Linked DNA regions of Homo sapiens: region 2 is linked to region 1. A link means that fine-mapping ties the variant in region 1 to the expression of a gene that starts in the linked region. Tissue or cell type: whole blood. Region 1 holds a variant in brackets; the other region holds the start of a gene. All regions are shown on one strand. Distances are from middle to middle.

Region 1 (5,148 bases):
CTTTCTTCTTCTTTCTCTTCTCTCTTAGCGGAGCCTCCTCCGGCTGAGAAGTAATCTGTGGGGAGCCCGAGGGGTCTGTACTGTTCAGGCCCTGGAAAGAGATGAAGGTAACTGCCTGCTGATAGGGGCACTGCACCATTTGGGATTGCAGTAGGGAGACCCCACTCCTCAACTGGAGGGATTCATAGAGGTCACACCCAGGGCTTCCTTGCTGCTTTTTCTGTCACCTCCCATGCTGTTTTCTTCCCTTCGGTGTAAGCCAGCCCTCTCTTTTTGTGGTAAGATGACTATGGGAGTCCCAGGCTGGAGGCTGACTCTTTGCACCCACTTCCCACACTTGTTTCTGACAAGTCTGATCTGTGTAGCTCAGCACATCCAAGGACAGCCTTCCCCTTGGCTTCGTTGTCCAGATGCATGACCCCAATGGCTTTGTAAATGAAATGGTATAATCTCAAGAGGCTAGCCTGCTGTAGAGAGAGGAATAAATAAATCAATATGTAAATAAATCCACAAGAGCAGAGGGGATGTACCGGGACTTTGCAAAACTATGATGAAGCATTTTAGAAGATGGATATTGCTGTATTTCTGGTGAGCTCTGATTGAAAGGCTATGATTCCAGCCATGGGCTGTAGGAGAGGGAAAGTGAGCTGTGACGGAAATTCCCTCATGGATTGATTTGACTTAAATATATTCCAGGAGCTGATCTAATTGCTGGTTCAGTCTTAGGCTTTGATTTTCCTTCTCACAATTCCCTGCATTTCAAATAGTTTTTATTAAGGGGCCTGAGCTGCCCTCAGTCCTACTGAGAATCTTTCTGGATATATGACTAATTTTTTTTATTTATTTATTTTATTTTTTATTTTTTTGAGACAGAGGCTCGCTCTGTCACCCAGGCTGGAGTGTAGTGGTGTGATCTCAGCTCACTGCAACCCCCATCTCCTGGGTTCAAGTGATTCTCCTGCCTCAGCCTCCCAAGTAGTTGGGATTACAAGCACACACCACCACACCTGGCTAACTTTTGTATTTTTAGTAGAGACGGGGTTTTGCCACGTTGGCCAGGCTGGTCTCGAACTCCCGACCTCAGGTGATCCACCTGCCTCAGCCTCCCAAAGTGCTGGGATTACAGGCGTGAGACACCATGCTTGGCCTGTGACTGATTCTTCTGAGAACACAGTACTAGAAATACTGCCCTTGGTCAAAGGAAGAACCAGACATTCCCCACCTGAGAAGGAGAAGCATGCTGGTAATTTCCAGGGGGACAGGTAGTTAGTTATTCTTATTTTGAATCAGAAGTGCTGGTGGCAGCCTCTTACTGTTCAGACTCTGAGACATATTGGTTTGGGGGTACAGTCCAGGAAAAGGTGGGAGGAGAACTTCCAATCAGGTGAGTCTTATGCATGGAAGGCCCCAGACACTGACCCCTGGAGTCTGACCCCTTGATCTTCTCATCAGTTCACAGCCCTCTACTCCACCCCTGCTGCCAGTCTCCTCTGCCTGACCGCCTGCCTTACAATCCGATTTATATTCTCTTTCTCTCTCTCTCTCTCCACACACTTCCTCCTCCTCTTCTTCTGGAAAATTTCAAGCATATACAAAAGTAGAGAGAATAATATGATGCCCCCTTTACCCATCACCCAACTCCAACAATGGTCAACTCACAGCCACACTTTTTTTGAGATGAAGTCTCGCTCTGTCACACAGGCTGGAGTGCAATGGTGTGATCTCAGCTCACTGCAACCTCCACCTCCCAGGTTCAAATGATTCTCCTGCCTCAGCCTCCTGAGTAGCTGGGATTACAGGCACACACCACCACGCCTGGCTAATTTTTGTATTTTAGTAGAGATGGGGTTTCACCACGTTGGCCAGGCTGGTCTCGAACTCCGGACCTCAGGTGATCCGCCCTCCTCGGCCTCCCAAATAGACTTATTTCAATTACATGCCCAGCTGCTTTTACCTTCACTCCTTACCTCTTGCTCTACCTGGACGATCTTGAAGCAAATTTCAGATATCATGTAATCTGTAATTAGTTTAGCATATAGCTCCAAAAGATAAGGACTCTTTTGGATATAACAATTCCATTATTATACCTAACAATAAGAATAATTCCTAATGTCTCCAAATATCTGGCCAGTGTTAAAATGTCCTCAGTGTCTCCATTTATTTTTACATTAGTTCAAGTCAGGATCCAAATAATGTCCATACATTATAATCAGTTTATGTGGCTTTAAGTCTTTTCTTCATATAGGTTTTCTTTTGCTTTCAAAATTTATTAAATAAACTAAGTTATTGAACTATAGTTTCCCATAGCCTAAATTTTGCGGATCACCAGTCCCTGTGGTATTTTTTTAACACATTCCTCTGTCCCTGTTTTTTAATTGGTAATTAGATGACGAGATTTGTTGAATTCAGGTTTGATTTTTTTTTTTTTTTTACAATAATGCTTTATAGGTAGTGGTGTGTTCTTTCATCAGAGAGCATATAATGTCAATTTTGTGTGTGTGATATTACCAGCCTTTGAGTGCCATTGTCTAAATCTATTTCATGTATATCATTAAGTGTTATAAAATAGTGACATTCTATCATTCTCTTCATTTATTAGCTAGACTGCTTCTATAAAGAGAAATTTCCTCCATTGATCAATTGGTCACCTTTATATCACTTATCCCTGGGAAATCTTAGGCCACACAGCCAGAATATGAAAGTGCTTTGTGGCCAGTGTCCCTCAGACCTCAAGGTAGATTCTACAGGAGGAAACGGAGTTACCCCTCAACCTTCCCTGGGCCCTCTGTGTTCACTTCTTCAAAGATATTTTAAAATCCATTTGCCAGCCAAGATATTGGCCCTGCTTCAATGCAATATAGGTTTTGCATTTACCAATGGGAAAATCTAGAT[A/T]AATTTGAGTAACTCAGAAAACATTTCCATTCAGTTGTTTTAGAAGCCACCCATGCAGAGTCCAGAGCTGCACCTCACACCGGTGTAGTGTGGCCTATCTACATGATGCTTAAGCCATGTAGGTAGGAACCCACACTTCCAGGGCTGTCCTACTGGTTGCATGATAAAGAAGATCTATCCTCCGTTTTGAAGGTACTCAGTCTTGATCCTGAGGAGGAAGAAAGCAGAGAATCCTCCATGCAGAGAGGTCTTCACCAGCTAAGGACAGCAGTGAGGCCAGAGCCCAGCTGCTCACCTTGTGCCACCATCCTTGCCCACTGACCATGATGGCTCTAGTTGCAGCACCACTACTGCTCACACCTGCCCTGGAACAACAGTCCTGCTACCCAGGATTCCTTGCAACTGTAGAGAATTGTAGGCTGCAGCTGGGTGATTTCACAACTTGCTTGCCCACGCCTGATGGGGGACACAGAGGTGAGTCTTCTCACACAAGCTGTCAGTAGTCTACTCAAGAGTTGTCAGGAATGAGGGAGACCCACTCAAGCAGATAATATCAAGCAGCGAGGGCTCTGGGACAGGGACAGACCAGCCACTTGCATCTGACGAGTGAGCCACAGTAAACTGACCAGTACTGCAGCCACACACTCAAAAGCATCACTGGCTATTGGCTGCATCTGCTATCCAGCCCAAGCTGGGACTAGGGTTGCCTCACTAGGTGTATGAGGAGAAGCAGTGGCAGGAGTATAGTAGCTTCTTTATTTTTCCACCCAAGCAGGCAACTGCAGAGAGAATGCAAGGAGGGGTATAGAGATGGGCACAACCCCCCTTTGAATGCCATCATGAAACATGGCGCTTGGGGACCCAGTCAGGTGGGCCTTGTGTCCACCTATAAGAAACATAGGGAAAGGAATTAACCAGCTGTACTAGAGCCTTTTACCTACCACCTAAATTTCCTCTCTGAGCCAGAGAGTGTTTCTGGCTTCTCACCAAAATGCAAGGAGATTTTGGTTAAAATCCATCCCATTCCAAATTTGTGAGACAGACTCTGGTTCCATAGGCCCAATACACCACCTGCTTCAAATGGTCGTAGTCCAGGTGGTTGTATCTGCCAAGCACCCACAACAGCAGCAGGGTAATGGGGAGTGCTGGTGGAACCTTTCACCTATAGGATGCTTGGAGTCTTACCTGTGGAGTTTAAGGCGGGTGGCAAGGGTTGGAGGGGAGGCATACATGAGAGCTTGGTATTGTTGCTCACCTTATGTTCATGTTTTTATTTCCTGCTGATAATTAGATGTAGCTGGCATGAGTCCCATAGCTCTGCCAGCTTCACTTCAGTGTCTTGGTATCAATGGGCCATGCAAATACCCTCATAGCCCACCTGGATAGGAACCACGCAAATTTGCAACCTTTGAGCCATATTGGAACAGAACTTGTCAAGTATAAGGCTGATTTCCAGAGGCTCATACCCAGGTTTGCAGGAGTTCAAAGGCATATCAATTCCTTGCCATTTCCCGGGGACTTTCTTTACAGTGAGCAGCTCAGGATGAACCAGGCCTGTCAGGAGCCAACATGGTGATGATGCAGGGCTGCCATTTGCTTCTACCTGACACTAGCATTTGGATCAGCTCAGATCATTCCTAGGACATACAAAAGTGGCCCTGGTGGGCACACAGCCTCCATTCATATCAGGAATTAGTAGAAGACAGTAAGTGCAGTGATTATTAGTGCTATTCACTAAATATTCTCGGTTCTCCAGGCTCATGGTAAAATTGCCTTTCCTGATCCCATTGGGTTTGGGTGGAGCCATCTGCTAGCTTTGCCAACGAATTGTGAGTAGAAGTGACAGAAGTTATTTCTATGCCCAAGTATTTAATTGCTGGGCAAGACACTCCTCTGCTGACCATGATCTCTCTCTGTCCCTTTGACATGACAACTGGTAATGTTTGAAATGGCTGCTACTCTGTCAACCTGGGTCTCAGAGTAAGGAGCACAGAGGTGAGCCCTTCTGACCCCCACTGGATGAGTAGCATTACCAAATAAACCTAGTTTGCTATAAGCGGCCAAGATTTGAGGATCATTTTTATCACAATATAAGCTAGCCTATACTGACTGGTTCAACTGATCAGACATGCTTGGGACAAAGCAGCTGTTTAGGATGACCTTGAAACTATACAGCCTTCTTGAAGTTCCAGGGTCTGATGTAAGCTCCTGTATGATCTCTTGGATCTGGAGCAATTATCCACTTTAATGACACAT
Region 2 (5,148 bases), 78 kb after region 1:
CTAAACAAAGAACAGGTTAATTACTCAATGATGATTTTTAAAGGGCATGTCGACAGTGTCAGTGACTTTGAAACAAAGTAAAGGAGCTGAATTCAAGTGTGTGCCTGAGTTACTTAACTATCTTGAACTGATTTAGGATCTGTAGCTTTAATCTGGGGCTCCATCTACTAGTGGTTTAATAGAGTGGGTTTTATTAAAATTGTGATTTAATCAGAAGCCAGAAATATACAACTGTTTTAAACTTTTTGATATTAACCTGATATACACAGTGGGCTGATAAATTAGTGAGACAGTTCATATAAGTCATATATGAAAATCAGTCTGTTATTAGCCACAACTCATGTATTTTTCAAAACTTGGAGATAAATGTAAGCTTCATCTCAGAAGTCATATTACACGTTATAGGTTTAATATAATGAAATTTTTCCAGACTTAGAAAAGATATCAGGAAATTAACATTTGCAAGGCAATTTACAGTTTTCAAAGAGCTTTTCTCATTAATTATCTCAGAAAACTGAATAATGATGTGATTATTAAAGGTTAATTAAGCAAATACTTGTGAAGTAATTGGGAGGTAATCTATTTCTAATTTAACAGGTCAATCACGGGTATTTAGGAAATATTTTTGCTGGTTAACAACTCTAACCAAAACAAAAAGGTATTTAAATGGTTTCCCTAGTGAAAAACCATAAGCATGTGTTTCCTCTATTAAGTCAATTGTTTCAAAGAACTAGCATGAGAATTCCTAATTTCACCGTTTTGATGATTTAAGGTTTTATGAAGATTCTGAGCTCTTCCCTCCCGACGTTAATCCATGTCTTACATTGTTCATTTTGGCGCTTTAGAATAAAATATCTTTGGAAAGTAACTATGAGAAAGCACAGAGGGATATGTTAGTGAAATAGCCATTTTCTTGTGGGAAGCAAGACATTTCGGTTATCGACTACACAGAAGAGTGAATAAAACCCAACGCCTATCAACCACCAAACGTGACTCTGCTTGCATAATCATACAAATAAATTTTCTTTAAAAATTTTTCATGGGTGCAGTATATAAAATGATCAATAGTCTCATCAGCAGTGGAACTACAAACTGCTTTCTCCTAACTTTGTGTAGCCTGGGTGCTGCCTCACGATTACTAAGTGGTTTAAAATCATATCCCACTTGCTCCTTGGTTTATCAGCGAAAGACGTGATTCCCAGGTAGGAAAACGCCAAGTGTCCCGCAAAGGTACAGGTAAAACGTAGCAGTTACTGCGAGAAGACTGGCCCCGGGGAGTCCCAGGGCTCGGTCGGGGCCCCCGCACGAGCTGAGGAAGTGGACAGCGGGCACCTTTGTCTGTGCCTAGTTCCCTGGACCCGGGCCGAGCGATGCGGGTGGGGGCGCGGTTCGGGCGGGTCCCGGCGCTGCCCGGGGGAAGCGCGCGGCGACGGCGGCCCGGCTTGGGAGCCGGAGGTCAGCGGCTGCGCGGCCGGCCCCCTCCCACGGGAGCCGCGCCAGGGCCCAGCAAGAGTCGGGCGGGATCGCTATTGTTTTTGGCGAGCACATAAATCCCCGGGCCGACCCACTGCGCACCCAGGTTTCCTCCCGGAGGCCTTTCGGTTTCCTCTGAGGCCCTATATAGAGGCTCCAGGCCCGGACTGTGCAGAGGTGCGCGCCCACGCCGGCCTCCCGGACCAGCCTGAGCTCGGAGCGCCTCTCGCCCTCAGGTCTCTGCAGCCAGAGGCATCTGGGGAGGTGAGGGGGGAATTTGTCCCCGAGGCGAGGAGGAGGAGGCGGGGGCGCGCGGAGCCGAGGGGCTGCGGCGAGCGGGCGGGAGGAGCAGGAGGATCCGCTTCTCCGGGGTTTCCCTGACGCCAGCAGCAGCGCCCGGCGCGCGCGCCCCGCACCCGTCAGCGGCTCCGGGGAGAAGGGGGAGGGGAGCGGGCCCGCCACGGCCCGAGAGGCGGCAGCCGGGATTGGAGCGGGGGCGGGCCGCGCGCGGAGCCGAGGGGGTGCGGGCGAGGCGCGCGCGTGCGCGTGTGCGCGCCCGGGACTCCCGCCCCCCGCCCCCGCCCCCGCCCCCGCCGTCCGCGGTCTCCGCCCCCCTCGCGCTGGTGTGTGGAGCCGGAGTCGGCGGCGGGTGGCGGCGCCTGGAACCTGGAGACCGACCCACCGCCCCCCCCCCCCCGCCCCGGAATGTACTGACTCCCCTTCTTCGCTCTCCTCCCCTCCCCGCCCCCTTGCAGGAGGGAGGCGCCCTGGAGTCTCCCCTCCAGCGAGAGGGGCTGCGCGGGCCGGGCCGGGCCGGGCTGGGCTGGAGCAGCGGCGGCCGCGGGAGCCGAGCTTGCAGCGAGGGACCGGCTGAGGCGCGCGGGAGGGAAGGAGGCAAGGGCTCCGCGGCGCTGTCGCCGCCGCTGCCGCTCACTCTCGGGGAAGAGATGGCGGCGGAGCGGGGAGCCCGGCGACTCCTCAGCACCCCCTCCTTCTGGCTCTACTGCCTGCTGCTGCTCGGGCGCCGGGCGCCGGGCGCCGCGGCCGCCAGGAGCGGCTCCGCGCCGCAGTCCCCAGGTAAGCGGCGGGCGCGGGCCCGGGGGTTCGCGGGGGCGCGGCACCGGCTCAGGCGGCCGCGGCTGCGGTGTTTTTGTTTAGGATCCAGGAGGAAACGTGCAGGAACTTCTCTGCCTCGGCTCCGGTTGCCGAAGAGAAAGGGGATCGCGCGTGGTGGGGAGGAGAAGGGCGAGAGGGGGCGCCACCGGGGAAGGGGCGGCTGCCGGGGGGCAGGTCGGGGGCGCAGGGGTCTAGTTCCCAGCTTTGTACCTGGAGGCAGGTTCACCCCTCGCCTCTCTCCCCTCCCCCAGGCTCATCCCACTTGTAAGAGTGGGACATTCTTGTGCTCACACTAGCACCAGTAGAGGCCACTACACACCTCATTAAATAAACAATCAGACGGCCAATTCATTAATTTTCAGGAAAGGAAAGGGGAGGGGGCTTGAGCTCCTGGTTCCCTGGCCAGGGATTTCCCAGCTTCCGAAGTCTCGAGGAAGAGCTGGCTAGTCTCGAGGGACTCCTCGCGCGGGGATTGGAGCCCGAGTCTGCGGAAGAGCGGGGGTGTCAGAGGGGCACAATTGCCCGCTCACAACCCCTGGTGTTGATTTAACGATGAGGACGCCTTGGAGAGCGGCTCGGAGTGATCGTATCTGTTAGTGTTTCCGTTATGAAATGCCTCTTCTTTCCTGGGGATTACAACTATATTTACAGCCTATTAACCACTCTTAACCAAGGGAATTGTCTAAGCATCAGATTTTAGGTACTTGTACAATGTTTTCAGATGGCATTGTATAAACATTGAACCTCAAAAGCCATTTTCAGTTCTTTTTTGGAATATTATAGATTACTGAAACCACCTGCATTCCTATTAAGGGGACCAACGAACAAAAATGCCAAGCCTTCCGGGAAGGACCTTACGGTATTGTTGAGCAGGATACACTCAGCAGTTGAAAGGCAAATTAGCATGTAATCTGTTAAAATTATTTGACCAAGGTGGTGTACCATAAAACTTGACAAAACTTTCACTCGTGTGAGATATGATATTTTTACATTTGAAAGCAGTCTTACCGCTGAACCAGTACTTGTTTTTCCCTGATTTATATGAAATAATATTTAAAATCACACTGCAAGGTAACTTGACTGATAAACTTTTCATTTCCTTGCAGAGTGTGTATGTAGCTCATGGCTTTTGCCAATGTTAAAGAACAGCTTTAAACGTAAAGTACCACTCGGTATTCTCTAAACAGCTACGTAAACAATAGTGTTTTAATGTCAAATTAAACATCACTTATGTCATGATGTACCCTTATACATTCAGTCCGTATATGGTTTAGAACACATTTTGGTGCTGAAATGCAGGTTACTGATCCAACTGTCTCTTAGATGAGCAAGAGAAATATAACTATTTTGGAAAACAAGTTCCTGTTACTCATGATCTATTTTATATGGAAATTCATATGTAGTTCACCAAATTTCAAGTTTTTGTTTAAAGTTTTGCCGATAATTTTGTAAGTAACTAAAATGCTAGTAATTTTATTACTTAGGATAATAAAAATAATGCAAGCAGTCTCAGGAAGTGGTCTTAACATCTGTTTCAACATTAACTCAATTGACAGGTTTTTATTTTGCACAGATGAGGTGCAAGGCATATGCTCTCTGCCTTCATGGAGTTTACAGTCTGGTGTGTGGGTAGGAAAGATAGCCATCCATCTACTGATTATATAATTAAGTAATTGTGATAAGCACTACAAAGGAGAATAGGTTTTCACAAAGTGGGTACTGGAGTGACATAACCTAGTCTGGGTGTTAAGAGTGTCTCACAAGAACTGAGATCTGAGGAGTGGGTAGGAGTGGAGGTGGGGAGGCTCACAGGTAATTAGTCGTTTAATTGGGTCTAGAACATAGATCTCCTGATTCTCGGTCCAGAGTCCTTCCTGTAAACCGCTCTGCTTCATTACAAAAGCGAGAGGAATAACTGCAATAAGGAGGGGTTGGTCAGTTCTGCCATAAAACTGCGGAAGAGATCAAGAGACTGGAGAACTGAGTAAGCAGCAACTGGAACAAGCTGTCCGCAAATCAGATGTCCTTTGTCAGTAGTTTTATTTTTTTTATTTTTGTAGAGTGATAGACTTATAAATCTTTTTATAGGGGATTATAGTGAATAGATTGTAGGGAAGTGGACATGTTCAGTAGTAGAAGGTGGAGAAAAATAGAGATGTGGGACAATAGGATAAATGGAAAGTGTTTTTCCATCTGAGGTTATAGACATACGGAGGTGGAGGAAAAAGTAAGAAGTAAAGGACTGGTGATAGAAAATGGTCAGCAAGGGAGGAGGGTTGGAATTGAGTAGGAACATAATCTGGTATTCTGAAAAAGGGCAGATTACTGAAAAGATATGTAGAGACCTTGGGGAAGATGACATGGCAGCAGCCTGTGCAATGCATGTCTTCTCTATTTAGAGTGAACATTCTTCACCGAGGACTCTGTAGCTTCTGCCTGAACCATTTATTTCATGATGTGATTCATTGCCTTACAGGGTAGTCCATTTCTGTGTTGAATAACTTCTGTTAGAAAATGTTGCTTTGTACAGTACATTTCACTGTAGTTTTCACCCTCCCC

What was found. PIP is the estimated chance that this variant, and not a neighbour inherited with it, causes the effect.
Region 2: NEO1 starts here. The variant in region 1 is fine-mapped to the expression of NEO1 in whole blood (INTERVAL, PIP 0.96).

Annotation. Positions count from the first base shown.
Region 1 is chr15:72,972,096-72,977,243 of GRCh38, forward strand. No RefSeq gene overlaps it. Among named protein-coding and RNA genes, the nearest start is that of NEO1, 78 kb to the right of the region's middle. The variant A/T (reference allele first, on the strand shown) is at 2,893.
Region 2 is chr15:73,050,256-73,055,403 of GRCh38, forward strand. NEO1 (neogenin 1) reads left to right here and starts at 2,208. Exons shown (of 29, transcript NM_002499.4): 1 at 2,208-2,550. The coding sequence starts at 2,421. RefSeq lists silencers at 1,328-1,377, 1,438-1,507, 1,598-1,917, 2,148-2,527.